5 linked regions of the Homo sapiens genome follow. The protein of the gene in region 3 interacts with the protein of the main gene of each other region in a pairwise test. Each region holds a gene or a part of one and is shown on either strand. Other genes may lie near its edges.

Region 1 (5,703 bases), on a different chromosome or scaffold from region 3:
TTTGAGTGAAGGCAGGCTAAAAGGTTAATTCAGTGGTATGCTAGTTCTGGGGTGGGAGGATGGGGAGCCCTGATTTGTAGCGTTTACATTTCCATGGGATAATTACTACCACCCTGTCCAATTTCAAGCCACCAACGTGATATTACTGAATGCAGAACTGGGAAGAGATACACAAAATCCACATGAACCAGGGTAAGCTAGCTTCAGCACACAGCTGGTTAAATTTATGAGAAGACAGACAAGAGATGGAGAAAGTGGAAAATTGTTCTCTTGATTAATAAATTAGAAAAAAAGAAAAATTCTGATGGAGAAAGATACGGACAGTGGTCGGGAGATGAATATAAATGGAACAGAGCACACCCAGCAAAATGATACTGGGTGAGGGCAAGAAGTAAACATCAAGTAGAAAACCTCAGGATAGCTATATGCAGGATTTCTCAACCTTGGTGCTACTGACAATTTGGGCCATATAATTATTTGTTGTGAGAAGCTGTCCTGCACTGCAAGATGCTAAACAGCATCACTGGCTTCTACCCATTAGTTGCCAGTAATTCCCAAAATTTATGACAACCAAAAATGTCCCCAGGCATTGCCAAATGTCCCTTATTGGACACAAATGCTCCCAGTTGAGAATCCTTGGGTTAAGTTGTTCTCATTCTCTCCACTACTCCTCTTACACTCTTACTAGGAAATTTTACATAGTTACACATGTATAAACTCTGTTGACAGGTAATCTTATGTGAAGTCTTATGTGAAATAGGGCAATTCTACTAGAGAAGTCACCTTGCAATCTCACTTTTTTTCTTCTGCATTAGGTCAGTACAAAAAGAAGAGTTATCGTGTCTTAATTTATTGTCTTTTGCCTTTTCTATAAAATTTGTTGCTTTTCTTTTTGCAACAAGAGGGTCCTTCCTCTCTTGCAAGAAAAAAGATTGATTTCCAACTAGTTCTTTAATTTCATTACCATTAGCAGTTGTGAAGGCCATGCTGCTTTACCTGTTATGAGTGCCTACATCAACTTAGTGTAATAAGTAGCTTCTAGTACAAGAGTTATAGCAAAAAAGAAACAGGTATATCTCCTAATTTAGGATTCTCTGTCTTGGAAGAAAATACAGTGAAAATAATAAATGGCTTTCATTTTAGAAAACTCAGGGTTCAAAACCTTCCTGACATTTACCATGTGTACCCATTTCGGTCAAGGCTTCTTGTGGATACAAAGAACAGATATCCAGTCAAACTAGCTCAGGTAAAAATTGGGTTTTATTGTAGGATACACGAGGCAATTTCATAGTCATGTCATCAGAATCAAAGGCTATTCTTTTCAATGCTTAGAAGCGACACATTTTCTCTCATTTCAGCTTTCCTATCATACTCACAGGCCAATATGGCCACCACCTGCACTCTGTATCAAATTCACTCCACCCAATCTCTCAGTGATCCAATTCCACACTCTCAGAGGAGAACATAGGTTTGCCCGGCTCATCTCAGTTTAAACAGAACTCTTAGTGTCAGGCCATGCCGTGAACCACTATTTAGCCTATGGATTAAATGTACTGGAGTCGGTAGCCCATCACTATTCTAATTAGGTATGCCCCAGGTCAGCATCCTGAGTCCAAAACACAGCCAGGTTCCTCTGGAAGGGGTTGGGGAAGAGGCATGCAATAACTGAAAATTCCGGCACAGTGACTCTGAGCAGTTACTTAAGCTGAGTCTTGGTCTACCTGTAAAACAATGATGATAATAATACCTCATAGGAGTTTTGAAGATTAAACAGTATAAATGGGGCAAACTTCCAGTTTTGTGCCTGGTAGGTGCTCAAGAAACAGAACTTCTCATTTAGAACACCAGAATCAAAAAGTACTGTTAATATATTAGTAAGCATGAATCTAAAATTAAGATTATGGAAAATTTAGGGACCTGGTATTTATACTTGAAAACTCATTTACATAATGTTAATTTATCCTATTTCCTTTTTTAACTGTAAATATAGTAAATGTAAAAATGAGAGCACCCATTATCTTTCAATAACCCTCTATGTTAAAAGAATTGTTCTAAAGGAACTCTACTGGATACCTAGTTCCCTTATCTCCATACTTTATAACATACCCTGTTCATGTAATGTTCTTGCAACAAGACAAGAGTTCTGACATTCTCTATAGGTGTATGAATACCCTGCCCTGACCCTGCCTCAAACCTCCCTTTTCTGCAAGTCTGTGGTCTCCTTCAGCCAGTCAAAGTCAATCAGTAGAGATTTACAGTCTGGATTCATGAATACTGAATTGAAATTAACATTTGCGAACAGGTCCCTTGGTTTCCATTGATCTATCACCCTGGATAAATCACTGAAGATTTTGTATTTTGTTTATTTATTTAAAGTCCTTCTGGCCAGAAATACGAATATATATTCTCCCACAGAGTGATTTAATGTTTAAAATATTGATTAGTTTCACAAACTGCACTACCAGCCTATGGTCAGGTGGGTAATACCAAATTAGTGTATGATGACATTCTGGAACAAAATAATAAGAGCATTATACATAACACAGTAAGACAGAGTGAACTGGAAATGTAATTATAGAACTGTTTTGTTATTTTAAAGGGGGATGGAATGAATTAATGAATGTTATTTTTAAAGGATTCTAGAAATTGTCTCTTTGTTTTGGTATCCCCTGAAATGTTTAAAAACTCAACCATTAACCCTCAGTATACCACTGGGTTCCACGGGTCCACTTTTAGTTTTTCAGTTCCTTTTCTGAGCAGTTCTCACTATTTGTATAAATTAGCATTTCATAATTTTTATCTTTTCTTAAGTCTTTCAAATAATGAGAAAATTTACTTATTTAAAAAAACAGAATAAAATAAATTATATTTTGCAATTACCAGAGAGGTCCAAAGAACCCTTTCATAAATCTAAGATATATTATAGGATTATTGCAGTATTTTTATATTTCCTGTATCTTGAAACATTTTGCCATTTCATCATCCTAGGAATTATTTCATCATTACTTATCAATTATTCCCTTTTGTAATAAAAAGAAATTAAAATAAGAAAATGATCTGAAAGGATGATGCAATAACTTATCATTGTTGAGCTTCTTTACTGTGCTGTACAAAGTATCATGTCACCTCCAGAAAGTATAAAAGAAGACTGAAAACACCATTTTTGTAACCTGTTTTTAGTTTTCATTTTCTGCCTATCCAGTATTTGCAAAGTGGAGACAACTGACAGAGGAAGACATCTTGCCACTGTTAAAGAAATCAAAAGATGAATGGTGTGGTAGGCTAAAAAATGGCCTCCCAAAGATATTCACTTTCTAATTCCTGGGACCTGTGAATATTACTTTCTATGACAAATGAGTGAAAATTATCTTATATGGAAAAAGATGTGATTAAGATAAAGGTTTTGAGGAGTTTATTCCAGATTATCCAGCTGGACCCTAAGTGTAATCACATGCATCTTTTTAAGAGAAAGGCAGAGGAAGTTTAGAGAGAGAAGAAAAAGCAACATAACTATGGAGGCACAGAATGGCATGGCGTGGCCACAAGCCAAGGGATGCCCACAGCCACCAGAAGCTGGAAGAGGCAAGAAATGGATACCTAGAGTCTCTGAAGAAATCACAAATCTGACACCTTGATTTTGGATATGTGGCCTCCAGAAATGAAAGAGAAGTAATTTCTGTTGTTTTAAGTCACCCAGTTTGGATTACTTCTTATGGTAGTCTTAGGAAACTAATACAAATGCAGAGACACATTCTAGAGTCTAGATGATAAAATCGATCATATGTGAAATCTCAGATGAGTCTTCAGCAAAACATATCCTAGGTGAATTTTCTCAAACTTAAGAATCAGTCAGTAAAAAATATATTTCTAAGCATAGAAAGGAAAAATGATTTTATCATAGAGTTAATCATTTCAGCAGGGAGAACATACACCCAATATTTTACAAGTATCTAGACTATCTTGTGTTGCTACAAGGATGTAACTATACTCTCTCAGCTTTTTATGTTTGTGAGTCAAACATTACTTGATACAAAGATGGTTACCATGCTTACATTCTTATTAAAATTTTAAAGTTGTTTTACACAATCCCTTTTAATCTTACTTTTAAAAATTACTCATAAAGTGATTTAAAAATATTCGTCTGTGGGTGTATGTTTGCATGTATGAGGGTGTCTATGAAACCTAGATGGTCAATAGTGATTTAAAAAAATGTTCTACATGCAGCCACTCTGGATTTTATAAACTGGTCTGCACAGCATATGGCAACATTGTAATCCCAGTGGTGAACAGTAGCAGTAGTAGCAGTAGCAGCAGTAGCAGCAGTAGCAGCAGTAGCAGCAGTAGCAGCAGCAGCAGCAGCAACTCTCTCAAATTGGCTCAAAGTGCTAGTCTTCTCAGAGGTGTCTATCCAAACACTGCTCTACAGAAGCCAATTTTAAAGCAAGTTCTGGCCTATTCACTATCCAAGAACCTTTTGTGGACATAGCACTGTACCAAATACTATAGAACTAAGATATCATTTTTATTAAAAAAAGAAAAAACAAGGAAATCTCCCATAAAAACTGACTGTCCTAGGGATTATCTTTCACTTCAAATCTGGACCATAATATTATTTTACCGATCTGTAATTTCTCAATAACCACAAATGCAAGTTTAGAAAATAATACCTTAATCTTACGCATGAACAAGACACACTACGGTTCTAGTCACCAAAGTCTTTGTTTCCCTTTGACTCAACGCAAGAGCTTCGGCTTTTGAAAATAGCAGCACATGGCCAGGCGTGGTGGCTCACACCTGTAATCCCAGAACTTTGGGAGGCTGAGGCAGGCGGATCACCTGAGGTCAAGAGTTGGAGACCAGCCTGGCCAACATGGTGAAACCCCATCTCTATTAAAAATACAAAAAATTAGCCAGGTGTGGTGGTGGGCACCTATAGTTGGGCTACTCAGGAGGCTGAGGCAGGAGGATCGCTTGAATCTGGGAGGCGGAGGTTGCAGTGAGCCAAAATCGCACCACTGCACTCCAGCCTGGGCAATAAGAGTGATACTCCGTCTCAAAAACCTAAAAATAAAAACAAAAATAGTGGCACACAACATCTACTTACATTCAACTACATCAATATTAGTACCATGAGAAACTGTCATCTGTAACTTACTAAAGATTTAAAAATTTACTAAAATTTCATTTAGGATACTTATAGACTATAGGATGTTTTTTCCTTTAGTAATCCCACCTTCTTTGTTGTGGTTCTTAGAAGGCTAAAACTATGACATTTCTTATATAATACTGAATATGAAAAAGCGTCTTTCTCCAGTTTCCACTAGGACAAAATTAAAATCAAATTACTTTTCTTTCTTTTTTTTTTTTGAGACGGAGTCTCGCTCTGTTGCCCAGGCTGGAGTGCAGTGGCGCAATCTTGGCTCACTGCAAGATCCGCCTCCCAGGTTCACGCCATTCTCCTGCTTCAGCCTCCTGAGTAGCTGGGACTATAGGCGCCCACCACCACGCCCAGCTAATTTTTTGTATTTTTAGTACAGATGAAGTTTCACCGTGTTAGCCAGGATGGTCTTGAACTCCTGACCTCGTGATCCACCTGCCTTGGCCTCCCAAAATGCTGAGATTACAGGCGTGAGCCACCGTGCCCGGCCTCAAATTTCAACTGAGGTACCTAGTACTTCTACCTTATAATATGAATTATTCATA
Region 2 (6,619 bases), on a different chromosome or scaffold from region 3:
TTTGGACTGTTGCTAGCCCACATATATCCACTATAAGAGCATTTTCCTGCTCCACTAAACCCTAGACTATTGTGAAATTTTTGTTGAATTCATTAGTACCAATTTAACCTATTAATTACTGATAGAAAATACAAAAAAAAAAAAAAAAACTATGGGACCTTTGTGCCCAAGAGTGACTTAGCTAGTTTGTATGACGATTTCTCTGTGCTAATAAGTTGACTGGGGAAGTATAAATGACTAAAGGAGTAGGGTTACAAAATCACATTATTGAACACAAAAACAACTTTTTTTTTCAGCATCACCTTGATTTATTTTCCTAGTATTTTTTTCCTCAGATGGAAAAATAATTTCATCAAGAAAACAAATGCTTCTGCCAAAGTGAAAGAATTTTATGTCTTAATGCTTTTCTTTAAAAAAAAAAAAAGTCAACATTGAACTAGGACATGCTCTGCTTCCCCACCCCCATTTTGCTGACTACATTTTAAAAAATCTATTGGCAGAAAACAAGATATTTTCTTCAAATAGAGTGATTATGTTTTATTGCTATTTTGTTTAGTATATATTTTTCTCAATTGGGAAAAAAATCTAGGTGAAAAAAATTACCTAACAAGAGAAGTAGTTTACATAGTCATAACATTTAAATTGCTGCCCAAAAAATGTAAAAAAAATTTAATGTAAAATGTCACATAATTTCAAAAAACTTACCTCAATTGTCTATCATTTATCATGTACTATAAGTCAACTTCCTAAATAAGATTACAGTCCTTTATTATAAGCCCCTACTGGTACTATAGTATACATTTAAAAAACGCTACTACAAAAATTTTCTTTTCTTTTTGTTTTTGCTTATTGTGTACTTAGCTATAGATAATTTTTGAATACAAAGCCTACGGTACATATAAATGCAATAGTTAACTGATCCTGTTTGCTGATGTCCTTTTTATGTTCCACAGGTGACATCTTTTAATCCAGCATCTTCTCCTGTTTCTTGCCTTCCTTTTTCTTCTTCTTAGATTCTGCTGTGATTACAAAAAAGAGAGACAGAAAGAGAGAAAGAGAAAAATGTCAAGTTACTAAATTGCAGGGAAGAAATAGCCACATTTCTTATAATTGACCAGACTGATACACAAGTTGTTTGCTCTTGGTAGTTCTCTTGGTAAACTGAGAAAACACTATGTGTATGTGCATGTGTGTGTGTGTGTCTGTCTGTCTGTCTGTCTGCTTTTGACAAAAGAGTGCCTGTGAGAGTGGGCAGGAGGAACATAGCCTGCTTCTGTGTTAATTCTACAAATGCCTGTTATCTTACTGGTTGCCTTTGTTTGATAGGCAAGATATTGACTTGGGGTCCTGCTTAGAAAATAGAAATACAGCAGACATCTCTTAGTAAATTACCCAGGTCACTGCTCAATGGAAAACTACAAGAGCTCTGCTTAGCCCCTCATTTCCCCCATTCCCTTTCCGTAGGACTCTTTGATAGTATATTTTCTGAGCAAACAATTGCAAAGTGGTTCCACTCCAGGTCGGCCCTCTGCTTATATATTTGGCCAGCTATCTATGTAAAAAGAACCGGCTATAAACCATATGTACTCTCTCTGGAGCTTTGCCTACAGGAACTCCTAGTTTGGGGTAAAACAAATGGAATGTGTCAACATAGGCTGTAGGAAAGTAAAACATTGAGGATTTCAATCAAAAGACTCCATTCTTTTCCATTCAACCATCTTTCCACTTCTCTTTTCCTAACAGGAGAATGCAATGTAGAATAGAACACATCTAATTTGGCTCCAAAGACAAAAATGGTCAGAATCACTGGGTTAGCAAGTGAGGGGATATTGCTAAATATTTCTGAGCCACTTCTCCAATTTGGTCCATAGTAGTGGCAGAAATATACTGGTTAAGTACAGGCTCTGGAGTCAGACTGCTGAAGTTTAAATCCTGGCCACATCATTAAGTTACTGTGAGACACTGAGAAAGTTACTTAATGTATTTGTTTCTTAGATTACTCATCTTTAAATAGGCATATGAAAAGTACCATAGCATATGATAGTAAGCATACGGTTTATATCCAAATTAAACCTGTTCTATAAAATCTACTGAGAACAGAACATGATACAATAGCATGTGCTCAATTAAGGTTAGCATTTATCATTAGGGTGATAATAGAGCAAGAACAAGAGATCATTACCCTGTATAATTAAAATCCTTAATCATTATCAAGGCATATTGATTGAGCAGGTCAATGAATGTGCTAAGCAACATAGGGTCACTGGGACAAAAACAATGACCAACAGGGATGAGGTCATTGTTCACTGGAGCATACAGCCTGTGTCCAAGAGGACCATAAGACTTATGAAGACAGAAGATATGATATGATGCCAACTAGAAATATTGTATATTTCTCAGCTCATACTTAAGTAGAGCTGGAAACTTTTCCATTTCTATATACTATCTTCATGACCTCTTCAAGTAGGTTCCAAAGTCCATTACACACTAGTAGTATTTCTGTTCAATGTAATTGTCCTAATCTTCCTTTACTCAAACTTCAAGGGTACACTATATGCAAGTGGGTCAGCAGTTTCTAAACCCAGGCTAAATTGTTGTCCATAATTGTATTCATTCCATTCATGACTTCCCAAGTTTGCCCCATTTCTATACTAAAGAAATTTAACTTTTCACGCTCTCTATTTTTGTTTGTTTTCTCAAATATCTTTCTTTCACCCTATGAGAGGTGTAATGACCAGAATTTCCAAGTGAAAGATACATTTTAGATCAAAGGAGACATTATGTGTAATTTCCGAAAAATTATTCAGTGTCTGAAAATGTAATAATTCCCAATTTTTGGTCAACATTTTAGGCAACAGCTGTATATTAGGATGGTATCTTCAGAGAACAATGTAGGATTTCAACTGAGACCTAACTCTGGTTTTCCCTCTCTCAGTTTCCTCATGTCCCTTCCTGGAAAACCCTCAGGAACTTGTTATCTTCTAGGTCTCCAGTAGAGTGGATATCTAAGTAGCAATTTTCATATTTTGGCTAACATGTTCCTATTTCATACATAAGTCTGAGCAGATGACATACTAACCAGGTTTTTGTATAAAAGTTTCATAAAACTTAAAATTATTCTGAACATTGGACACTATTTGATCTGTTAATGTAAGGTTGTCCATTTCAAAGAACACTTTGGGAATAGGAATCTGTCACCAAATTCTTCTTGGTAAAGGCAAGAGCACATTCTTAGGTAACCCTGAACCTGACATTGGTGTCTTATTCCTTAATTGACAACTTGCTAAATACCAGGAAATCAACAATTTGCTTATTAAATCTGTACAATGTCAATCAACTTATTCTTCTGACACAAGTGGCAAGTAATCATGGTACTGTCCGGACACCCTGCAGAACTTGAGTCTACTCTGGGCTCAATCTAAAGAGAAAAATAAAGAGTCTTCAGTAAAAAGTAGTGGAAGGAGGGAAGAATTCATATTTGCAATAAGGTCAGTTTAGTTTTTTACATAACAAAGTGTTCAAATTTTTGTGAAAAAAAATCAGGTCAGTAATATTGCTTCCAATCGAAAGCAGTTTTTTGTGACTTTTATGTACATTCAACTGAAAGACTAAATGAGCTTTGTCACTGCTTATCTCTGTGGCCTCAAAAACTTATTAACAACCTCTCAATCTTTACCTAGTATACATGATGGGTTTAAAATAGTATCACAAAATCTATGACCTAGAAAGAACGTGGTCCAACGCCCTTACGTAATAGATGAAGAAACTGAAACATTCACATTGCCCCTCTTTACTTCCATCTTCATACTTATGCTTATTTTAGTTCCCCAAATACATCTTTTCTCTTTGTCTGTTTTTCTCTCTAGTCTCTGGCCTTCAAATTCACTCTTCATTTCATCAACCCCACACTTCCACTACGACATGTCTCATTAATGCCTCCCATCCTTCAGGTACCAGCATTGACATCACTTCTAGTTTGCTGACCTCGCAGTGTGAGTTAGAAGTTGTTTCTCTTTCCTGCTCTTGTTAGAGCACCTATCTCTAGCATTGTAACTGCCACCAAAATACAAGCTGCGAGAGGGTGCAGTTTCTACTCTCTGTTGTACCTCCAACCCATGGCACAGGGCCTTGTGTGTAAAAGCTGATTAGTAAAGCTTTAGTGAAAATAAATGGATCCATAACATGGTGATAATATGTCTCACCCATCTTCCTTATGACGGTTCTTTGACTTTTCTTTGCTTCTTTCCATCTTATCCTTTTCATATTATTTCCTCTTGGCCTGAGTGTTCCTTCTCCTACTACCCCAATTTGCACAGTCAGCACCTAGTCATCCTTAAAATCTTAGCCTCAACTGCATTTTCTCAGGGAAGCCCTCCAAGAGCTCTCAGATAAGCAGATTCCGTGCACAGACACTCTCATTGTGCCTCCCATTGATTTTTCCAAAACTAGAATTGAACTATTAATTTTGTCTCTAATTATTTGGTATGTGTTTTTCCTTTCCTATGACAATAGAGACCCTATCTGTATGTTGCAACTGTATATTCTGTGCCTGAGATATAACAAGCATTCATGAAATACTTGTTGCATGCGGAGTGGATAAATGAATACTTGAATGGGAAATAGTTCAACCCATTACTATATAGAAAAGAGTATTTCTCAAGGAAAGTAAGGAGTGTAAATCCAATTAGAATCTTGTCAAATTTCAGTCTATCTTTAAAGACAAATATTTTATGAAGAAGAAAACTTACAAACATACGTATATGAAATTTATCCAGGTTTCTTAAAACTTTGTCTTTAGAATAGAGACCTGATTAAACTCTGTGGGTAAAACTGTCCCAGTTTAGTCGCCTTTCAAGGTTAGAGAGAAATGTTTACTATGAGATGTGGGTCACAAATTAGCCTGGAGCAGGGCTATAATTAGTTAAAGCCAAGTGCTTTTTTATTGAAGTCATATAGCGGCTACTCTAGAAGGTTCTGAGAGCCAATAGGATTCCTACCCTGATGTGAACAGTAGGGCACTTTAGTTCACATTGAACAGAGCCAAATCAAGAGAAGGAAGTACACATACACCACACATCAAATAACACCCCGGGCCACATGTCCCTTGTCCCTGCCTGGATTGAGGCTGCAAAGCAGAAATGGATATAAACAGAGAATGAGCCATTGTCAACATGTGAAAGTAAAGGGCACCTGCCTGAAAGGTGACTTGTTCTGTTCCTACCAGGACATCACTGCACTGGAATCTCACAGCAGTGCCCTGGGTAGATTTTAACTTCCTGGGTTTTCAAACTTTCATCCTTTCTTTGGCCAGTTTTTGAGTTGATAGAGGCTAGTACTCATAATAATTGGGATACAGAGATGAGAAAAAATAGTAGGTGTGTATTTTTGTAACTTTGTGGGGGGTTTTTAAATACAAATACATTGTTTTAAGATACGTTTGAAAGTGTTCAGAAAGTCCTAAGGCTTTACTAAGAAAAAGTACTCTAGAAAGGATTCAGGCTTCTTACATTGCTATGAATCATAGGATCCAAAGGGCCATGTTCACCATATTCAATCTAGAAAACTCAGAATTTATCCAAGGAAATTCTTTGAATGCATAACAACTCCTGATAAGAAAGAAGACAGGCAGTGATATGGTTTGACTCTGTGTCCCCACCCAAATCTCACCTTGAATTGTAATCCCCATAATCCCCATGTGTCAAGGGCAGGACCAGATGGAGGTAATTGGATCATGGCGGCAGTTTCCCCCATGCTATTCTGTGATAGTGAGTGAGTCTTATGAGAGTTGATGGTTTTATAAGTGTCTGGCATCTCCCCTGCTTGCATTCATTCTCTTTCCTGCCACCCTGTGAAGAGGTGCCTTCCGCCATGATTGTATGTTTCCTGAGGTCTCCCCAGCTATGTGGAACTGTGAGGGAATTAAACCTCTTTTCTTTATAGATTACCCAGTTCTGGGTATTTCTTCATAGCAGCACGAGAATGGGCTAATACAGTAAATGCAGTGAGAAGAATGAGTAGAAATTAATATGAGCCGTGTTACAATTCTGAGCCCATGTGTTTTTTTCTATGCTGAATAGAAAACAAAATCTTGATAAATGCTAACGTATTAAGTGACACCATGGCCTTTAGGTACGGTGAGACAATGAAAAAATCATGAAGTTTTGTTAGAATCATACTAAGAACTAAGCCCTAATCTAGAGAATTGGTTCAAATAGATGTTTGCCACTTACCAGCTCTGTGATCTTGTGCAGATCAATCATTCTGCCTCTGTTTCCTATAAACTGGGGATAATAAAACCTATATCCTCCTCAGAGGGCCAGTGTTAGTATCATGTGAGATTATGTCCTCTGCAATCTCATCTTACCACTAATGTTCAAAACACATTAATTTATTGATTCAGCAAATATGCACTCCATCTCCACTGTTTTAGACGCTAGGGTATAAAGGTGAACAAGACAAAACTCTGCCTTCACACAGCTGACATTACAAACAACACTTTCAAGGTGGCTTTATGGGAGAGTCTTTCAAAATTGTAAAGTGCTTTAAAGTACATATTTATATTAAAGATCATGGGTATGTGGCAGCTATTTTTATGGTTTTGAGACCTGGTTTTCTTGTT
Region 3 (6,619 bases):
GCTTGCTGGAGCTGCAGTCTCCACCAGGCTATCAGAACAGGGGGTGGCTTAAACAGCATGGAATCTCAGCTTTCCGTTCTCCAGAGGAAAATGCTGAGGATTAGAGGCAGGGATAGGACCTGGAGAGAACCAAGGTACTGTAATGATGTTCTTTATCCAGAATACAGCCCCTGTGACTTTTCCTCTCTGTTATTTCCTTGAAGATGCCAGCACAGGCTGGGAAGGTTTGTAATACGGTGACCCAAGACACCGATCAGCAGGGAGGTGGTAAGTGGAGGGGGACTGGCAGCCCACCAAGGGCAGCTTCAAGGTCATGAGTCCCCTCCTCTGGGCCAGGGAGAGGAGGACCAGAAGGAGAGAGGAAGATTTGGAGAGAAAGCAGGCAGCAGCCAGATGAGAGAGGTGGAGGAGCAAAGGAGGGAGTCTTTGCTGTTTGATGGATGAAGAATTTGTTCCCTTATCTCAGATGGACAGACTGAGGCAGGAAGAGGGACAAGGTCAGATGGCCTCCTGAGCCAGGGAGGCAGCCTGGAGGTTTGAATCCTAGTTCTGCCATTTTCTAGTTATGTGATCCTGAGCATGTTGTTTACCTCTCTGAGCCTCTGCTCTAAGATGGGAATAATTCCAAACTCTATAGGATTGGCATGAGGACTAAATGAAATAATGCATCTAAAGTGTCTATTAGTGAGAAGATACTCCATACACAGTGGCTTGTTTTGATCATAAATGGTTCCCTATTTATTTCCAGGGCAGCCCAATATTACAGGTTCCTACTCCTTTCAAGAGAATGAATTTCTTTGTATTAGGAAGTCAAGACTGTTGGCAACTTAACAACATTTTTTTTTGTATTTATGCTTTAAGTTCTGGGGTACACGTGCAGAACGTGCAGGTTTGTTACATAGGTATACATGTGCCATGGTGGTTTGCTTCACCCATCAACCCGTCATCTACATTAGGTGTTTCTCCTAATGCTATGCCTCCCCTAATTCCCAACCCCCCGACAGGCCCTGGTGTGTGATGTTCCCCTCCCTGTGTCCATGTGTTCTCATTGTTCAACTCCTACTTATGAGTGAGAACATGCGGTATTTGGTTTTCTGTTCTTGTGTTAGTTTGCTGAGAATGATGGTTTCCAGCTTCATCCATGTCTCTGCAAAGGACATGAACTCATCATTTGTTATGGCTGCATAGTATTCCATGGTGTAGACGTGCCACATTTCCTTTATCCAGTCCATCACTGATGGGCATTTGGGTTGGTTCCAAGTCTTTGCTATTGTGAACAGTGCTGCAATAAACCTATGTGTGCATGTGTCTTGGGCATTTGCGTTGGTTCCAAGTCTTTGCTATTGTGAACAGTGCTGCAATAAACCTATGTGTGCATGTGTCTTTATTGTAGAATGATTTATAATCCTTTGGGTATATACCCAGTAATGGGATTGCTGGGTCAAATGGTATTTCTTGTTCTAGATCCTTGAGGAATGGCCACACTCTCTTCCACAATGGTTGAACTAATTTACACTCCCACGAACAGTGTAAAAGCATTCCTATTTCTCCACATCCTCTCCAGCATCTGTTGTTTCCTGACTTTTTAAGGATCTCCATTCTAACTGGTGTGAGATGTTATCTCATTGTGGTTTTGATTTGCATTTCTCTAATGACCAGTGATGATGAGCATTTTTCATGTTTGTTGGCTGCATAAATGTCTTCTTTTGAGAAGCATCTGTTCATATCCTTCGCCCACGTTCTAATGGGGTTTTTTTCTCGTAAATTTGTTTGAGTTCTTGTAGATTCTGTATATTAGCCCTTTGTCAGATGGATAGAGTGCAAAAATTTTCTCCCATTCTGTAGGCTGCCTGTTCACTCTGATGATAGTTTCTTTTGCTGTGCAGAAGCTCTGTAGTTTAATTGGATCCCATTTGTCAATTTTGGCTTTTGTTGCCATTGCTTTTGGTGTTTTAGTCATGAAGTCTTTGCCCATGCCTATGTCCTGAATGGTATTGCCTAGGTTTTCTTCTAGGGTTTTTATGGTTTTAGGTCTTACATTTAAGTCTTTAATCCATCTTGAGTTAATTTTTGCATAAGGTGTAAGGAAAGGGGTCCAGTTTCAGTTTTCTGCATATGGCTAGCCAGTTTTCCCAACACCATTTATTAAATAGGGAATCCTTTCCCCATTGCTTGTTTTTGCCATGTTTGTCAAAGATCAGGTGGCTGTAGATGTGTAGTGTTATTTCTGAGGCCTCTGTTCTGTTCTGTTGGTCTATATATCTGTTTTGGTACCAGTACCATGCTGTTTTGGTTACTGTAGCCTTGTAGTATAGCTTGAAGTCAGTTAGCGTGATGCTTCCAGCTTTGTTCTTTTTGCTTAGGATTGTCTTGGCTATGTGGGCTTTTATTTGGTTCCATATGAAATTTAAAGTCGTTTTTTCTAATTCTGTGAAGAAAGTCAGTGATAGCTTGATGGGGATAGCATTGAATCTATAAATTACTTTGGGCAGTATAGCCATTTTCACGATATTGATTCTTCTTATCCATGAGCATGGATTGTTTTTCCATTTGTTTGTATCCTCTCTTATTTCGTTGAGCAGTGGTTTGTAGTTCTCCTTGAAGAGGTCCTTCACCTCCCTTGTAAGTTGTATTCCTAGGTATTTTATTCTCTTTGTAGCAATTGTGAATGGGAATTCACTCATGATTTGGCTCTCTGTCTATTATTGGTGTATAGGAATACTTGTGATTTTTGTACATTGATTTGTATCCTGAGACTTTACTGCAGTTTCTTATCAGCTTAAGGAGATTTTGGGCTGAGATAATGGGGTTTTCTAAATATACAATCATTTCATCTGCAAACAGGGACAATTTGACTTCCTCTTTTCCTAATTGAATACCCTTTATTTCTTTCTCTTGACTGATTGCCCTGGCCAGAATTTCTAATGCTATGTTGAATAGGGGTGGTGAGAGAGAGCATGCTTGTCTTGTGCCGGTTTTCAAAGGGAATGCTTCCAGCTTTTGCCCATTCAGTATGATATTGGCTGTGGGTTTGTCATAAATAGCTCTTGTTACTTTGAGATACCTTCCATCAATACCTAGTTTATTGAGTGTTTTAGCATGAAGGGTGTTGAATTTTATCAAAGGCCTTTTCTGCATCTATTGAGATAATCATGTGGTTTTTGTCATTGATTTTGCTTATGTGATGGATTACGTTTATTGATTTGTGTATGTTGAACCAGCCTTGCATCCCAGGGACAAAGCCAACTTGATCATGGTGGATAAGCTTTTTGATGTGCTGCTGGATTTGGTTTGCCAGCATTTTATTAAGGATTTTCGCACTGATGTTCATCAGGGATATTAACCTGAAATTTTTTTGTTATTGTGTCTCTGCCAGGTTTTAGTATCAGGATGATGCTGGCCTCATAAAATGAATTAGGGAGGAGGCTCTCTTTTTCTATTGTTTGGAATAGTTTCAGAAGGAATGGTACCAGCAACTCCTCTTTGTACCTCTGGTGGAATTCGGCTGTGAATCTGTCTGGTCCCAGACTTTTTTTGGTTGGTAGGCTATTAATTACTGCCTCAATTTTGGAACTTGTTATTGGTCGATTCAGGGATTCGACTTCTTCCTGGTTTAGACTTGGGAGGGTGTATGTGTCCAGGAATTTATCCATTTCTTCTAGGTTTTCTAGTTTATTTGCGTAGAGGTGTTTATAGTATTCTCTGATGGTAGATTGTATTTCTGTGGGATCAGTGGTGATATCCCCTTTGTCATTTTTTATTGTGTCTATTTGATTCTTCTCTCTTTTCTTTATTAGTATGGCTAGCAGTCAGACTATTTTGTTGATGTTTTTCAAAAACCCAGCTTGTGAATTCATTGATTTTTTTTGAAGGGTTTTTCATGTCTCTATCTCCTTTAGTTCTCTCTGATCTTAGTTATTTCTTGTCTTCTGCTAGCTTTTGAATTTGTTTGTTCTTGCTTTTCTAGTTCTTTTAATTGTGATGTTAGGGTGTCAATTTTGGATCTTTCCTGCTTTCCCTTGTGGGCATTTAGTGCTATAAATTTCCTTCTAAGCACTGCTTTAGCTGTGTCTCAGAGATTCTGGTATGTTATGTCTTTGTTCTCATTGGTTTCAAAGAACTTATTTATTTCTGCCTTGATTTTGTTATTTACCTAGTAGTCATTCAGGAGCAGGTTGTTCAGTTTCCATGTAAGGTTATGCGGTCTTGAGTGAGTTTCTTAATCCTGAATTCTAATTTGATGGCACTGTGGTCTGAGAGACTGTTAGGATTTCCGTTCTTTTGCATTTGCTAATTAGTGTTTTACTTCCAATTATGTGGTCAGTTTTAGAATAAGTGTGATGTGGTGCTGAGGAGAATGTATATTCTGTTGATTTGGGGTGGAGAGTTCTGTAGATGTCTATTAGGTCTGCTTGGTCCAGAGCTGAGTTCAAGTCTTGGATATCTTTGTTAATTTTCCGTCTCATTGATCTGTCTAATATTGACAGTGGGGGTTAAAGTTTCCCACTATTATTATGTCGGAGTCTAAGTCTCTTTGTAGGTCTCTAAGAACTTGCTTTATGAATCAGGGTGCTCCTGTATTAGGTGCATATATATTTAGCATAATTAGCTCTTCTTGTTGCATTGATCCCTTTACCATTGTGTAATGCCCTTCTTTGTCTCTTTTGATCTTTGTTGGTTTAAAGTCTGTTTTATCAGAGAATAGAATTGCAACCCCTGATTTTTTTTTGCTTTCCATTTGCTTGGTAAATATTCCTCTATCCCTTTATTTTGAGCCTATGTGTCTTTGCACTTGAGATGGGTCTCCTGAATACAGCACACCAATGGGTCTTGACTCTTTATCCAATTTGCCAGTCTTTGTCTTTTAACTGGGGCATTTAGCCTGTTTACATTTAAGGTTAATATTGTTATGTGTGAGTTTGATCCTGTCATTATGATGCTAGCTGGTTATTTTGTCTATTAGTTGATGCAGTTTCTTCATAGTGTCGATGGTCTTTACAATTTGGTATGTTTTTGCAGTTGCTGATTCCAGTTGTTCCTTTCTATGTTTAGTGCTCCTTTCAGGAGACCTTGTAAGGCAGGCCTGTTGATGAGAAAAATCCCTCAGCATTTGTTTGTCTATAAAGGATTTTATTTCTCCTTCATGTATGAAGCTTACTTTGGCTGGATATGAAATTCTGGGTTGAAAATTCTTTAAGAATATTGAATATTGGCCCCCACTGTCTTCTGGTTTGCAGGGTTTCTGCAGAGAGATCTGCAGTTAGTCTGAAGGGCCTCCCATAGTGGGTAACCCAACCTTTCTCTCTGGGTGCCCTTAACATTTTTTTCTTCATTTCAACCTTGGTGAATCTGATGATTATGTGTCTTGGGGTTATTCTTCTCAAGGAGTATCTTTGAGGTGTTCTCTGTATTTCCTGAATTTGAATGTTGGCCTTTCTTGCTAGGTTGGGGAAGTTCTCCTGTATAATATCCTGAACAGTGTTTTCCAACTTGGTTCCATTCTCCCCATCACTTTCAGGTACATCAATCAAACATAGGTTTGGTCTTTTCACATAGTCCCATATTTTTTGGAGGCTTTGTTCATTCATTCCTTTTCATTATTTTTTCTCTAATCTCATCTTCATTCTTTATTTCATTAAATTGATCTTCAATCTCTGATATCCTTCTTCTGCTTGATCAATTCGGCTATTGATACTTGTATAGGCTTCATGACGTTCTCGTGCTGTGTTTTTCAGCTCCATCAGGTCATTTATGTTCTTCTCTAAACTGGTTAATCTAGTTAGCAATTCCTATAACCTTTTTTCAAGGTTCTTACCTTTCTTGCATTGGGGTTAGAACATGCTCCTTTAGCTTGGAGGAGTTTGTTATTACCCACCTTCTGAAGCCTACTTCTGTCAATTTGTCAAACTCATTCTCCGTCCAGTTTTGTTCCCTTGCTGGCGAGGAATTGTGATCCTTTGGAGAAGAGGTGTTCTGGTTTTTGGAATTTTCAGCCTTTTTGTGCTGGTTTCTCCCCATCTTCGTGGATTTATCTACCTTTGGTCTTTGATGTTGATGATCTTTGGATGGGCCTTCTGAGTGGACGTCCTTTTTGTTGATGTTGATGCTATTCCTTTCTGTTAGTTTTCCTTCTAACAATCAGGCCCCTCAGCTGCAGGTCTGTTGGCGTTTGCTGGAGGTCCACTCCAGACCCTGTTTGCCTGGCTATCACCAGCAGAGGCTGCAGAACAGCAAAGATTGCTGCCTGTTCCTTCCTCTAGAAGCTTTGTCCCAGAGGGGCACCCGCCAGATGCCAGCCAGAGCTCTCCTGTATGAGGTGTCTGTCAGCCCCTGCTGGAAGGTGTCTCCCAGTCAGGAGACACGGAAATCAGGGACTCACTTGAGGAGGCAGTCTGACCCTTAGCAGAGCTCAAATGCTGTGCTGGGAGATCTGCTGCTCTCTTCAGAACCGGCAGGCAGGCTGAAGCCACATCCACAGCTGCCCCTTCCCCCAGGTGCTCTGTCCCAGGGAGATGGGAGTTTTACCTATAAGCCCCTGACTAGGGCTGCTGCCTTTTTTTCAGAGATGCCCTGCCCAGAGAGGAGGAATCTAGAGAGGCAGTCTGGCTACAGCGGCTTT
Region 4 (6,619 bases), on a different chromosome or scaffold from region 3:
TACGGCCAACTTCAGCTGCAGTTCTTGGAGGGCAACGGGGAGAAAGAGAAAATGGAAACCACAGGTCCGTGAGTCTTCGAGAAAACACCCATTTAGATGTAATATGAGACGAGGAAGCACAGCCCACGCGCTTGGGACTCACCTGAGTCTGGGTGCTGGCTGTACTTTCCAATCACTGGACCCGCAGACATGATCGCACCCACACGGACAAGGGCCAAGCAAGCGAGAAGAGAGAAGAGAGCACATTAGGTGTGGAGTTAGCCTAGCGTGTTCCCATGCGACTTGGTTCAAGCAAACTCCCTTCCGTGTCTGGGATGGCGCTGGCCGCCGGGGCAGTGGAATTCATACTGCGCTAAACAAAGATCTTTTTGTTAGGAAGACAGGAGTGAGACCCTGCTGGCCTCAGAGCCTGAGGAGAAAATGGAACCTTCACAGTGAGACCCCAGCAGGTGCAAAGGGTGAGCTTCCTTGCATGTAAAGTCACCCACAGGTCACTGCCGCCTGCATTCAAGCTGCGTCAAGTGCTGTGGGGTGCCCCTGCCAGCCCCAGCTCTGCTCCTCACGGCTGCTTGGTGTTCGCCTGGGGCTCCTGTGCATTCCTGCTCAGGGCCAAAGGGGCACCACAACACCCGGGGGCTGAGGCACCCTGCCACTTCCGTCCCAACTGTGTGAGCAGGAGACTCCCTGGAAGGGCAGCTGGGGAACGGGGATGGAGGGAGACAGGCGCCACGTGTGCAATCCATTAGCTAAGCCTAACAGCAGTCTCCCAGCAAGGTATAGATTGCATAAGAACTGTCCAAGTTAGAAAGCTGCTCCTGAGTTTGAAGTGAGCCATCTCTAATCTAGGCTGCACGACAAGGCCGCTCTGATCTGGGTGCGGTGGACAGCCCTGGCGTCTAGTTCTGAGAGCCCGGGTTCATTTTCCTTGTAAAGGCAGGGGAGCTCTGTGGGGTCGATGTTCCCGCAGTGTCCTGAGCCTGTCCCAGGAGGACCGTGCCAGGGTGGGAGAAGAGGCTCATCGGTCCTGCCTGTTCACGTCGCGCCCTGGGCTGGCCACGGAGATGCTGTGGTGGTTTGTCCATACACGGGAATGGGTATTTGTTGGTGAGGAGCTATACAGAGCTTGCTGGAAGGGCCAGATGGACTCTCTAGCTTTGCCTTAGATTTTTTTTTTTTTTTTGAGATGGAGTCTTGCTCTGTCACCCAGGCTGGAGTGCAGTGCTGCGATCTCAGCTTACTGCAACCTCTGCCTCCCAAGTTCAAGTGATTCTTCTGCCTCAGCCTCCTGAGTAGCTGGGACTACAGGCGTGTACCACCAAGCCCAGCTAATTATTTTTTGTATATTTAGTAGAGATGGGGTTTCACTACATTGGTCAGGCTGGTTTGAACTCCTGACCTCATGATCCGACCGCCTCAGCCTCCCAAAGTGCTGGGATTACAGGCGTGAGCCACCGCACCCGGCCAGATTATTTTTAACCTTTACTGAGAAATTCTTTGGTCCAAAGAGAAGCTGATGAACTCGGGAACATCTGCTGAAAAGCAGGGCCCTAATGCAAGGGTGACAAAACAGATTTATTTCCCCCTTAATGTCACTCGAAAGAGACAATCCTTTGTTCTTCTTGGTCATGTGATGAATCACACAGAAGCAGTCTACCTATTAGCAAAGACTGGGCCACCAGGACTCGGAAGGAATCATGGTGCAGCCCGGGCCGGGGCAGGGGCAGGGGGAGGCGGGAAGGCCCAGTGCCCTCTAAGGCGGGCTCCACAGATGCTCTCAACTGAAGCTCTGTTCTCCCCAAAGCAGCTCCTTCCAGCAGTAGATTTTAGAGTGGCCAGCGGAGTCTTATGCAGCCCTTTCAAATGCCCTTGGGGATCTGCCAGCTTCCCTCCCTGCACCCAGCCCACCTCCCCGACCCACTCACGGTTGAGGAGGCCGAGCTGCAGGAGTGAGGCCAGGGCGGTGAGGATCATGAAGAGCAGCAGCCCTCCCCTGCGCCCGAGGAATCGGACCACCACGCACATGGCCAGGCAGGACACCAGCGCGATGCTGGCCGTGGTATAGTAGTCAGCATAGAAGTTCTCCAGGAGCGGCACCTTCACCTCGTGGCCCATCATGCTCCTGGCAAAGCAGTGGTGGATCCCGTACCCCGTCAGCCTGTGGAGACATACCGAGCGGCAGTGGGTGGGCTGCCCCCATGCCAGGGGCTGCGCTGCCTCCTGGGAGTTCGTGCTGTCAGGTGACCAGGAGATGAAGAAGCAACTCAATGTGTCATAGAAAAGCCCATCATGACCGAACCACGAGCAGATTACAGAGCCAATGCAAAAGAGGAGACGTGGGAGAAATATGGAATGCTTCTCCTGATGGAGGTCCAGGCTCATGCCCCACTACCATGGCTTTAATAGACAGGTGTGGGCACAAGAGCAGTGAGTCCTTTTGTTAAAACACACACTTTCATGGGAATCCTCCAAGACAAAGCGCTTTCCAGGTACTGACTCATTTAACCCAGGGCCGCAATCCAACAGCCACTGCACACCCACTTCACAGGGGCAGGGGGGCAGAGCAGCTCGCACGAGGCTCTCGGCGGGTAAGCGGCAACTCAGAGACGCAGCTTTTCTGGGCACTTAGGGTTCTGGAAGGGTGGAGATCTATCCATACCAGCCTCAACTCCACCCACACAGCCTGGAGGAGTCGGGCAGAAGCCAGGCCAATGGAAGACATATAGGGTCCACAGGAAACTGTTTTTTTTTTTGTTTTGTTTTGTTTTTGAGTAGAGCCGTGTTCTGCTACCCAAGCTGGAGTGCAGTGGCAAGATCTCAGCTCACTGCAACCTCCCCCTCCCTGGTTCAAGTGATTCTCCTGCTTCAGCCTCCCAAGTAGCTGGGATTACAGGCACCTGCCACCATGCCCAGCTAATTTTTGTATTTTTTGGTAGAGACAGGGTTTCACCATGTTGGACAGGCTGGCCTCGAACTCCTGATCTCAAGTGATCCGCCTGCCTTGGCTTCCCAAAGTGTTGGGATTACAGGTGTGAGCCACCGCACCCGGCCTCCGTTTTGATTCTTAATTTATCCCTGTTTCCCCTCCACTGCCCTGGGTCAAGCTTCTTTATTGCCCCACACGAGCGTATCAACCTGCTGGAAAAACGTGTCTGCCCTGAAAACAGGAACAAAGGCGTGGCTGCACCCTCCCACGGAGGCTGCTGATGGCCATCCATGGGGTGCCTCAGGGCTCTCAGGAACCTTTGGGGTGTACCTGTGATGCACCCGTGGTGCCTCGAGGGACCCTTCTTATGTCTGCTCTTGGCAACCATCCCAGAGCCAAAAACTGCCCCCTTCTCTCCCCAAACACCCTTTCGTGCTTCAGGGAAATCTACGTCCTTCTCATCTAACCTTGAGAATGCATCAAGGTCAACTGTAACAGACCCCGTCCCTGCCCCATAGGGGGAAGCCACCCCTTGCCAGGTGAATGCCTTTCCTCTTGGGAAATAGGCAGAGGCCCCAGCCCCCGCACAATGGCTTTATAATCCAGCAACTGATTTGGTTCAGTTAGCCTCCAGAGTTCCTCTTCTGGCCTGCTGAGATAGCAGGGCAATCTCCTACCTTCTTGCTCTGGTAGAAATGAAGTCTCCCCTGACCACAACAGGTCATCTGAAGATAACAGAGCCAGAGAGCTCGGTTCCCCGTCTCCACAAAACGAATCATTAAAATGGAAACTCACCATCTTATGTCAAATTTCATGTTTTTTTCCAACATAAAATGTAGAGAAGCCGTTCAACTCCTAACAGTGCCGCCAGCTCACCCAGCATCTACCTGAACCAGGCAGCAGCAGAGTGGCCAAGGCTGAGGCCCTGGGCTTGGCCTGATGTGGCCGTGGCCGGTCCCTGGCCTTGGTCTCTCTCCTGAGCTCAGGATGAGGCTCTACTGTTGTTTGGGCAGTAGAGCCTCTTGTACTCCTCACAAATCAATTTCAACCCAGAACCCCAATATGGAGAACTGATGAGCTGCTTTGACAGAAAAAGCCATGGGGGATGCTTGGCCCCTCGCCCTCACCCTGGGCCTGTCTTTACCTGGTGGCAGCTCGAGACCTTTCACAAATGAGTGCAACACCCCAGGTGACCTCTAACCCAAATGAGTCAAATCCCTTCCCTCCGCCACCTTGGTGACCTCTGACCCTGAACAAGGGACCACCTTGCACAGTCAGGGCCACTGAGCTCAAGACAGGAGTGACCTTCTAGGTACACACCAAGTCCAGGGACTGGGCTGCAAAGAACCTGCGTGAGTGATGCCCCCAGCCCCTGCAGGACCCAGCAGGCGGGGCGACCTGGGCCGGTGAGGGCCCTGGGAGGAGGTCTGCGCTCACTGGCCTGGCTCAGGCCCACCTGCCTCCACCCACGGCTGTCCTGGGGCCTTTGGCCAGGCTGGCTGCAGGTTCAGGAAGGGCGGGGCCGGCTACAGGCAGGGGCCAAGGCCTCATGGGTCTCAAATCCCCTGTCCTGAGACAGGGCCCAGAATTTCCAGCCTTGTGGCATCCCCCACTGTGCCCCTGAGGAGGTGCGTCCATGTGCATCTTGGTTTCCTGGACCTCATGGGCACGTGGTGGGGAGGCCCTGCTCACAGGATTTACACGCCTGGGCTGGGGGGCACCGGCTGCTTGAGGCTTCCGGGAGCGGGGGAGGTCAATATCTTCTAGCCCGTGTCACTCTTCACACACACACCCTTAGGATTCCAAGTTCAGCGGGGTGGGGAGCAGGGCCCTGGGCTTCACCACTCCCCACCTTCTTCCCTGGCCCCCTCCCACCCAGCTGGCACTTGTCCTCTGTGACTCACGAGTTCACACACAGGACCACAATGTTCTTCCACAGGTTCCGTGTCCCCACCACCTTCACGATGCAGACCTTCTTGGGCCTCCGGGAAAGCTCTTTCTCCAGCTCTGCAAAGAAACAGACCCTGTGAGCCCTGGGCAGGCCGCCCACAGAGGACAGGACAGCAGCTGCAGTCACAGCCCTGGTTCCCCAGTTCGGGTACCACAGAAGGGAGAGAGAAGCTTTTTTTTTTTTTTTTTTTTTGCCAGTGGATAGGGTCTAGGTTTCCAGGATAGAAAGGCACTCATAAGACCCCAGCTTTGCAGTTCAGGTTTCGCTCGGGTGCCTGAGAGGGCACCAAGGTGCACCGTCAGCAGAAGTTTCCATCACAAACCCTTGTTTTGGAACCAGTCAGAGTGCACACAAACGGTCTCGACTCAGTTCACTTTTGTCTGAGTACAGAGCTCAGCGATGATATTCTAGGTTACTGAGGCACTCATTAGGCCCTGGGCAAATCTAAACATGCAGTTCTTTTCCGTACACTCTACATCTGCCTGTGTCACCCCCGGCTCGGAGACTGGGAAGGCCACATGCAGATATGCTTCTTAGCCTTGTGGGGTGGAACTATGGCTGTAGCTACTTCTGCTGAAACTGCCCTTAGGACATCATATGCATCTTTGAAAGCCAAATACATAAGTGAACACATCTGCGTGTATGTGTATACACCATACATGCACACATTCATACGCATGCATATACGTGTGCATGTTTTAGTTAACAGAAGTCCTTGGGGGCTGGACAATATTTTGGCTCCAAGGGATGTGAGCAACTATAAAGTCATGAGACTGAGTTTCTTGTGCGGCTCCAGCGGCTCTGAAAGCCCCTCTGAAGGGAGTCCACCAGCGCACAGTGTTACATTCACCAGGCCAAGGGGTCTGCAGAGGTGCTGGTGTTGATCTGGCAATTTACAGGGAAGATTCAGAATGGTGGGGGTGCTGGCCTCCAGGAGCTGTCTGCTTGCACGTCTGGGAGCAGGAATGCCACCTCAGCCTTCTGTTGCCTCTCTGCCTTCCTAGCCTGGCATGTCTTCATGGAGTAATCCCCTACTGGGGAGCTAAAAAAGAAAAGGGAGACTTCCCGAAGCGGAGGGGAACCAGGACTCTTCAAGACTGTCAAGGTCACCAGAAACAAGAAAGACTGAGCAGCTGTCAGACCAGGAGACTAGGGAGAGGGGAGGACAAGACGCAGTCCTGGGCGGCATCCCGGGTGGGAGGAGTCGTCATGGAAAGCACGATGATGGGAGGCACCAAATAAAGGCTGGGGTTTGGTGAATGGTAGTGTTCCAATGTCACTCTTTTAGTTTCGACAACAGTACCACGACAGTATCAGACATTCGCAATCTGGGAAGTCGAGTACTGGGAGGTCTGTCGTTGCCTCTAGAGGGATCCTTCTGCTCCCTCGGGGGCTGTGTCTCCAGGACCCTGGCCCTGTGCTTCCGAGGGCCACTCTGAACCCTGGATGGCTCAAGTTCAACCCTCCTCTTCCACCTCCTTCCTGCCATCCAGCGGTAGGAGGGTCACAAAGCTCTTTCATTATAGTTTGAAGAAAAAATGTGTTGCTAAACCGTAGGGATTTGAATAAAGCAATGATGTTTTTATTCAAACATTGTTTTTGAACTGAGTGTCACCAGCCAGGGCACAGAAGGGAGAAGGAGAAACCTTTCACTTGTCTGAGGGAGCTCATGTCTACTGAGTTTCCAGAACTTTCTCCCTTGCCATACTTGGGTGCAAAGATTGAGGTCTGTGTGTAAGCCCACA
Region 5 (6,619 bases), on a different chromosome or scaffold from region 3:
GCAGGATGATCTCTGGCCCAGAGTGACCCCGTTCTGTCCTGCAGGCCAGCACATCTACCTCTCGGCTCGAATTGATGGAAACCTGGTCGTCCGGCCCTATACACCCATCTCCAGCGATGATGACAAGGGCTTCGTGGACCTGGTCATCAAGGTGAAGCCTCTGGGTCATGACTGTGGAGGGGGTGTGGGTGGGTGGCCATGGCAACAGCCCATGTGGACCCCCTGGACAGGGAAGTCTCCCGCTCCTGCCCTGTGCAGCCCAGCCTCGGTCATGGCTGCCCCACTTCCTCAGGGGCTTGCAGGGGCAGTGGCTTCTAGAGCCCCTCTCGAGTCCATGTCCCCCCGCAGCCCGGACTCCAAAGACCCAGTGCTCCCTTGTGCCTGGTTTCTGAGTAAATAGCACGTCATCTTTACCAACAAAAGCCAAAGAAGGGGGTCTTGGCAGAGAACAGGGGCCAGGGTTCAGGGCAAGTGCCTTCAAACAAGGACAGGTACCTGCAGCAGAGGCTCCAGGAAGGCCGGCTGGCGGTACAGACGCCCCTGCTGCGAGGTGTGACGGCGCAGTCCCGTCCCTGCTCTCACGCTGGGAGATCCCTGGGAGTTGGGTCCCGAGTGTGCGGGGTGAGGCAGCCACTCCACCGTGGTCAGCGGCCGGGCCTCTGTGACACGCAGGCCCTGTTCTTACCCGTTTCCCTAAGAAATGTCCCTCAGGCCTGCTAGGGAAACATGTGAGGGGCTCGTGTGGTGTTGTCTGGGAGCTGGGGTGATGGGCTTTCTGGGGTCTGCTGCGGGGTTCGAGGTGGAGGTTCACAGGAGAAGATGCAGGCGTTAGGGGCAGCAGCCCGGAACCTGAAACACACATGCCGAGTGGGAAGTAAGAGGCAGCATGACGGCCCCAGCAGGGACGTTTTTATGAAAATTAGAAATACAAGCTTTCAGCCAGGCACAGTGGCTCACACCTGTAAGCCACTTTGGGAGGCCAAGGCGGGTGGATCACCTGAGGTCAGGAGTTAGAGACCAGCCTGGCCGACATGGAGAAACCCCGTCTCTACTAAAAATACAAAAAAATTAGCTGGGCATGGTGGTGCGCACCTGTAATCCCAGCTACTTGGGAGGCTGAGGCAGGAGAATCACTTGAAGCTGGGAGGCAGAGGTTGCAGTAAGCCAAGATCATGCTACTGTACTCCAGCCTGGGCAATAGAATGAGAGCCAGTCAAAAAAAAAGAAATACAAGCTTTCCTGCAGAACAGAGGGTGAGAAGCAGCCTAGACCAGTGGGTATGTGGGGTGTTGGAGACCCTCCCCAATCAAGGCCAAAGCCCTATAGCCTCCCCAGCCCAGCACCCTCAGGTACCCCTGGAGCCCCCTTACTGGGCCGTAGCTGAGGCCCTTACCTTGCCAGGTCTGGGGGCAGGCACTGGATCTGAAGGGTGGGAAGGGCCCTGGCCCGGGCTCCTTCCTTGCTGGGGCGCCCAGGCCTGGCCTCAGGAGCCCGTCTTTGGCTGGAGGACGGACACTGGACACATAGTCATGGGGAAGCCAGTGCTCCCTGCAGGGGACAGGTACCTGCGACCGAGCTTCCAGAAGGGCCACCAGGGATGGGTGGGGTTGGCTGGTGAGAGTGGCTCCCTAGCAGGTGACAGTGAAGGTGAGATCTGGGGCTGAGTAGGCACTGACCAGGTGAAGAAGGAAGAAAAGGAGCTTCAGGTGCAAAGGCCCTGAAGTCAGCAGCAGGCTCAAGGATTGAAGTGGCTGGAGGGTTGGGGCAAGGGGTGGGAGAGGTCAGTGGGGCCAGACGGGGCCTTGGAGGCCCCAGTAAGGTTTGGGGCTTTGTCCAGAAGCACAGAGGAGGTGATGAGGGCTCAAGCATCTGTTCACGTTGAAGTCTCTCTGGCCAAATGTGGAGAAGCTATTAGGAGGATTCAAATTGAGGATGAAAAACTCACAGGTGACCAGGCCTCTCCTGGCTTGGAGACCTGGCTGGCTCCCTTGGTCCTTGATAAAGGTTAGAGTCCTGGCCTGGCACCCAGGGCCCAGGACAGTGTGCTCTGCCTGCCTGTCCGTGGCCCTCCACTCCCCTCTGCCTCCACACCCCATAGCCACCCTCTGTGCTGAAGCCACAACAGGCTCCCCTCCCTGAGGCACTGTGTACACGCTGTCCCTCCCCCAGCCACCTTCCCCTTCTCCATCCATCAGACTCCTTGGGCAGGGTGAGCCGCTCCTCCTCTGTCTCCCCATTTCTTTGTAGGTGTCGGATTGAGGCCCTTCTCTTTCCCAAGACAGTAATCCTAGAGAGTGCAGGGCAGGAAGTAGTCCCAAGAGTGAGGGAGGTTTTTAGCGACAGCACAAAACGGAAGGGACTGAGTGTCCACCAGGAGGAGTGTGGCTTAGTGGGCCTCCCAGAGCCTTGACTTTGCTGACGGGTTCAGTGTCTCCCGTTGGGAGGGGGCCCCAGAGACAGTTGGTGAAATGTGAGTGCATCCAGCCCTGGAGTTGGTCGGCCTTGTACACGAGGCTGGTGGTTTGCTTTCCCCGGATATGTCAGGTGGAGGCTGACTCCTGGGAGGACGGGGTGAAGGACGGGGTGCAGGACAGGTAGGATTTGACGGCTGGGTGGATGGGGCTCCACGGGAGAAGGCCATGTGTGGGCCTCAGAAGAAGCTGCAGAAGAGGCACTTGTCTCCCACTGTGGGCAAGAGCTCGCCCCTGAGACCTGGAGCTGGGGACTGAGGGCTGCGGGGGTGTCTTGCAGGTTTACTTCAAGGACACCCATCCCAAGTTTCCCGCTGGAGGGAAGATGTCTCAGTACCTGGAGAGCATGCAGATTGGAGACACCATTGAGTTCCGGGGCCCCAGTGGGCTGCTGGTCTACCAGGGCAAAGGTGATTCGGGTCGGAATCCCTTGGTTACACGGCAGGCTCAGAGAATTGGAGAGCTTGGGCGTGCTGGGTGCAGGGTGCAGGCCCCTGGCTCTGTGTGGATGGGTGACTCTCGTCAGGCCAGCTGTCCCTCTCTGGGAACTGAGTCTCCCTGGCTGTAGAGGGGGTAAGTTGCTGGCACAGGGGTTGCAGACAGGCCACTCCTGGGGGCCACGTCTCACCCACTGCCAGCCTCTATTTGGCTTTCTCAGCATCTGAAACAAGCAAGCAAGAGGACAGAGCTGAGCCTCCGGGTTCCCAGCCTCTCCACTGCTCCTGCACCTTCCTCATGGCTCGCGTTAGAATGGCAGCTGCCTCTACCTCGGACCTCACAGTGGGGGCAGGTTCTCCAGCCCCCTCTCCAGCCTCTCCAGCCACCACACATGGCATGTTTGATGGCCGGGCCTCACCCCTTCTCTCTCCCCAGGGAAGTTCGCCATCCGACCTGACAAAAAGTCCAACCCTATCATCAGGACAGTGAAGTCTGTGGGCATGATCGCGGGAGGGACAGGTACACGGAACCCCCCACTGAGGCGTCCGGCGGCTCATGTTAAGGGTGGGGTTGGGGTGTGGGTGAGGCGCAGGTTCTGAGTGCCTGGGAGCTACCAGAGGTCAGGGGCCCAGGCCCAGTGGTCCTGGCCCCTCCACCCCAGTACACCTGGGCGGGGCGGTGCCTGTGAACAGGCCTCGCTCAGCACGTGCGAGGCCCGGCCGGCTATTTTGCAGGCATCACCCCGATGCTGCAGGTGATCCGCGCCATCATGAAGGACCCTGATGACCACACTGTGTGCCACCTGCTCTTTGCCAACCAGGTCAGTGGGCATCCCCATGATGGGGAAACTCAGCTTACCCTGAGAGGGGACTTCGGGCCTGGTCAGGTGCTGTTCCAGGGGTCTGCACAGCTCTGCTGAGATTCTGGGGATGACCGGGATGGGGGGCCCTGAATGTTCTGTGCACTGGCGGCCTTGGCAGCAGCACGGCGGGCAGGCTTTGTGGTGCAGCGCCTGTGTCTGGCTGAGGGGGCTGCCTTGCGGGGAGCTCCCTGAGCACCCCCTCCCCTGGCTGCTTCCTCCAAAACTCAGAACTCCCTTCACCATGAGCACGGTGTGGAACCCACTGGTAGAGTGGGAAGAATGCTGGCCTGGACATGGAGGGGCCCATCTTACAAATGACCAGACATTTGCACGAAGCCCCTGAGCTACAGGGTGTCAGGGCAGGATTTGAATGTTGGTGTCTCTGGCTCCTGATTCATATCCTTGTCCACGAGCCCACTGCCTGCCTGCCCGCCCTGGCCTGCTGTGTGGTCTTGGACGAGCTACTTTCCCTCTCTGAGCTTCACTCCCTCATCTGTAGAATGAGCTGATGAAACTGGGTTGTTGCAAGGTCTTTTCAGGTTAGTGTTTTGTGACTGATGACGTAGATTTGGGGGAGAAGATGCTTGCCTGAGGTCCTTGGATGTGGGTCCTTGCCCCACCCTGCCTCCCCGCAGCTGCAGAAAACTGCCGCAAGGCCAACCAAGATGGCCTTGCCAGGCCCAGGGGAGAAAGAGCCAGAAATTCTAAGCTGGCTGGTGTGGAGGGAGAGAGGGCAGCAGTGAGACTTGGTGGTGCTGGTTCAGAGTCTGTGGAGGCCGTCAGACCGTCTGTCACCTGTACAGGCCATCTTTGCAGCTGGTAGCGAGGGCAGTGTGGTCGCCTCATCTCATACCTCCGAACACAGGCTCCGGGAGGGGCTTGACTGTGCATGTCTCGTGGGAAGTGCTGAAACCAGGATGCAAACCAGGGTTTTATTTATTTATTTATTTTGATACAAAGTCTCGCTCTTGTCCCTCAGGCTGGAGTGCAATGGCACAATCCTGGCTCACTGCAACCTCCGCCTCCCGGGTTCAAGTGATTCTCCTGCCTCAGCCTCCCGAGTAGCTGGGATTACAGGATGTGTGCCACCATGCCCGGCTAATTTTTATATTTTTAGTAGAGATGGGGTTTTACCATGTTGGCCAGGCTGGTCTCGAACTCCTGACCTCAGGTGATCCACCCGCCTCAGCCTCCCAAAGTGTTGGGATTACAGGCGTGAGCCACAGTACCCAGCCTATTTTTATTTTTAAAAAACTATTTTAGAAAACATCATTCTGTTTTACGTTTTTGCAAACCTTGGAATGTCTGGCTTCATAGGACAGCTAGATTCCTGTGTTTGTTTCTACATCCCATCTGTGTGATGTTGCCAGTCACGCAGCCTCTGGAAAGTGGCCCCATCTACTGAGAGAGGAAGAGTGAAAAATACCAGTGTCTCAGTATTATATGAAAACCATTTGGCCTCAGGGATCCTCTCCAGGGTCCCAACCCCAGGGGTCCCCATGCTACACTCCGAGAACCGTGCCAGTCGGGTCATTGCTGCTCGTTTCCTCTCCTACCTTCCTCCGTGACCTCAGTGCCTGGTTTTGAGCTGGGAGCCCCCTACCCTCGAGTAGCAGCCCCCCAAGGTTCCATCCCTCTGTTCATCTGTCAGGTGGGTCGCGGCGGTGGCCACCTCAAAGGATGGTGGTGAGGATTAAAGCATGAGACACACTTTAGCTCAGAGAGGAAGACATAACTTTTTTTAAAAAAATTGAGACGGAATTTCACTCTTATTGCCCAGGCTGGAGTGCAATGGCGTGAATCTCGGCTCACTGCAACCTCCGCCTCCCGGGTTCAAGCGATTGTCCTGCCTCAGCTACCTGAGTAGCTGCGATTACAGGTGCCCGCCACCACATCCAGCTAATTCTTTATATTTTTAGTAGAGACGGGGTTTCACCATGTTGGCCAGGCTGGTCTCGAACTCATGAGCTCAAGTGATCCACCCACCTCAGCCTCCCAAAGTGCTGAGATTACAGGCATGAGCCACCATGCCTGGCCTAAAAAGAAAGTTACACATAGTTAATAGAAAAAGAAAAGTGAAAAGATGCACACAAAAATCCTAACAGTCATTATTTCTGAAGGGTTTCAGGTACTTTTTCTTCCATATTTTCTGTATTTTTTTCCTTGAGTTCATCTAGCCCAAAGCCTGTCCCTGTCCCTGTCCTCACCCCATTAGGGCAGAAAGGGCCCTCAGCCTCCCACCCTCAGAAACTGGAAAAACTGTTCAACACCCCGTGTTCCCTGGGATGTGTTGAGGCTTATGCCCCTCACACAGCTCATCTGCTGGAGGGGAGCACCAAGGAGCTGGTGATTCCCGTATTCAGGCACCCTTGGGCTACGCGGAGGGTGGGTGCAGTTCCCCAGCCCTGGGAACAGAGGAGTCACGTCTGTGGCTGCCTCCTGGGGAGAGTCCACCCCGCCCTTGCCCAGCCTGGGAGCTCAGTAGCGATTTGTTAGTGGGCAGCCCTTTCTGGGTGGCAGCGCTCTTTGGCCCCTGGTTTCTTTGAGTTCCCTGAGGTCAGGGACACTGCACACTGACCTAAGGAGCCCCTTCTGTCCCTGTGTGACCTGCAAACGCTGGGCAGCAGCCTGTGATGTGATCAGAGGTGGAACGGGGGTGGGGGGCGGGGAGTCGGGTGGGGGATTCAGGGGGAGATCCCTGATAGCCCCTGGAGGGTCCAGGAAGCTTTCCTGGAAGGGATGACGCTGGACTGAGTTCTGTAGGGCTCTGTGACAGCCGGGTGGGGGTGGGGGAGCCGCAGGCCAGCCAGGAGGATGGGTGTGGGCAAGGCCCGAGGGGGCCAGGTTG

What was found.
Region 1: the proteins of WFDC2 (region 3) and GORAB interact in binary tests that used the Homo sapiens proteins (3 or more experiments, as listed by UniProt).
Region 2: the proteins of WFDC2 (region 3) and PTN interact in a two-hybrid assay, tested with the Homo sapiens proteins (one large-scale study listed by BioGRID and IntAct).
Region 4: the proteins of WFDC2 (region 3) and SLC22A23 interact in binary tests that used the Homo sapiens proteins (3 or more experiments, as listed by UniProt).
Region 5: the proteins of WFDC2 (region 3) and CYB5R3 interact in binary tests that used the Homo sapiens proteins (3 or more experiments, as listed by UniProt).

Annotation. Positions count from the first base shown.
Region 1 is NC_000001.11:170,546,054-170,551,756, reverse strand, and holds part of GORAB (RAB6-interacting golgin), read right to left. Parts: intron 1-5,703.
Region 2 is NC_000007.14:137,227,057-137,233,675, forward strand, and holds the end of PTN (pleiotrophin isoform 1 precursor), read right to left. Parts: intron 1,020-6,619; coding exon 964-1,019; 3' UTR 285-963; downstream 1-284.
Region 3 is NC_000020.11:45,471,284-45,477,902, forward strand, and holds part of WFDC2 (WAP four-disulfide core domain protein 2 precursor), read left to right. Parts: intron 1-6,619.
Region 4 is NC_000006.12:3,284,937-3,291,555, forward strand, and holds part of SLC22A23 (solute carrier family 22 member 23), read right to left. Parts: intron 4,931-6,619; coding exon 4,828-4,930; intron 2,156-4,827; coding exon 1,923-2,155; intron 176-1,922; coding exon 143-175; intron 1-142.
Region 5 is NC_000022.11:42,624,414-42,631,032, reverse strand, and holds part of CYB5R3 (NADH-cytochrome b5 reductase 3), read left to right. Parts: intron 1-44; coding exon 45-151; intron 152-2,751; coding exon 2,752-2,881; intron 2,882-3,344; coding exon 3,345-3,428; intron 3,429-3,643; coding exon 3,644-3,729; intron 3,730-6,619. UniProt on the Homo sapiens protein: Catalyzes the reduction of two molecules of cytochrome b5 using NADH as the electron donor.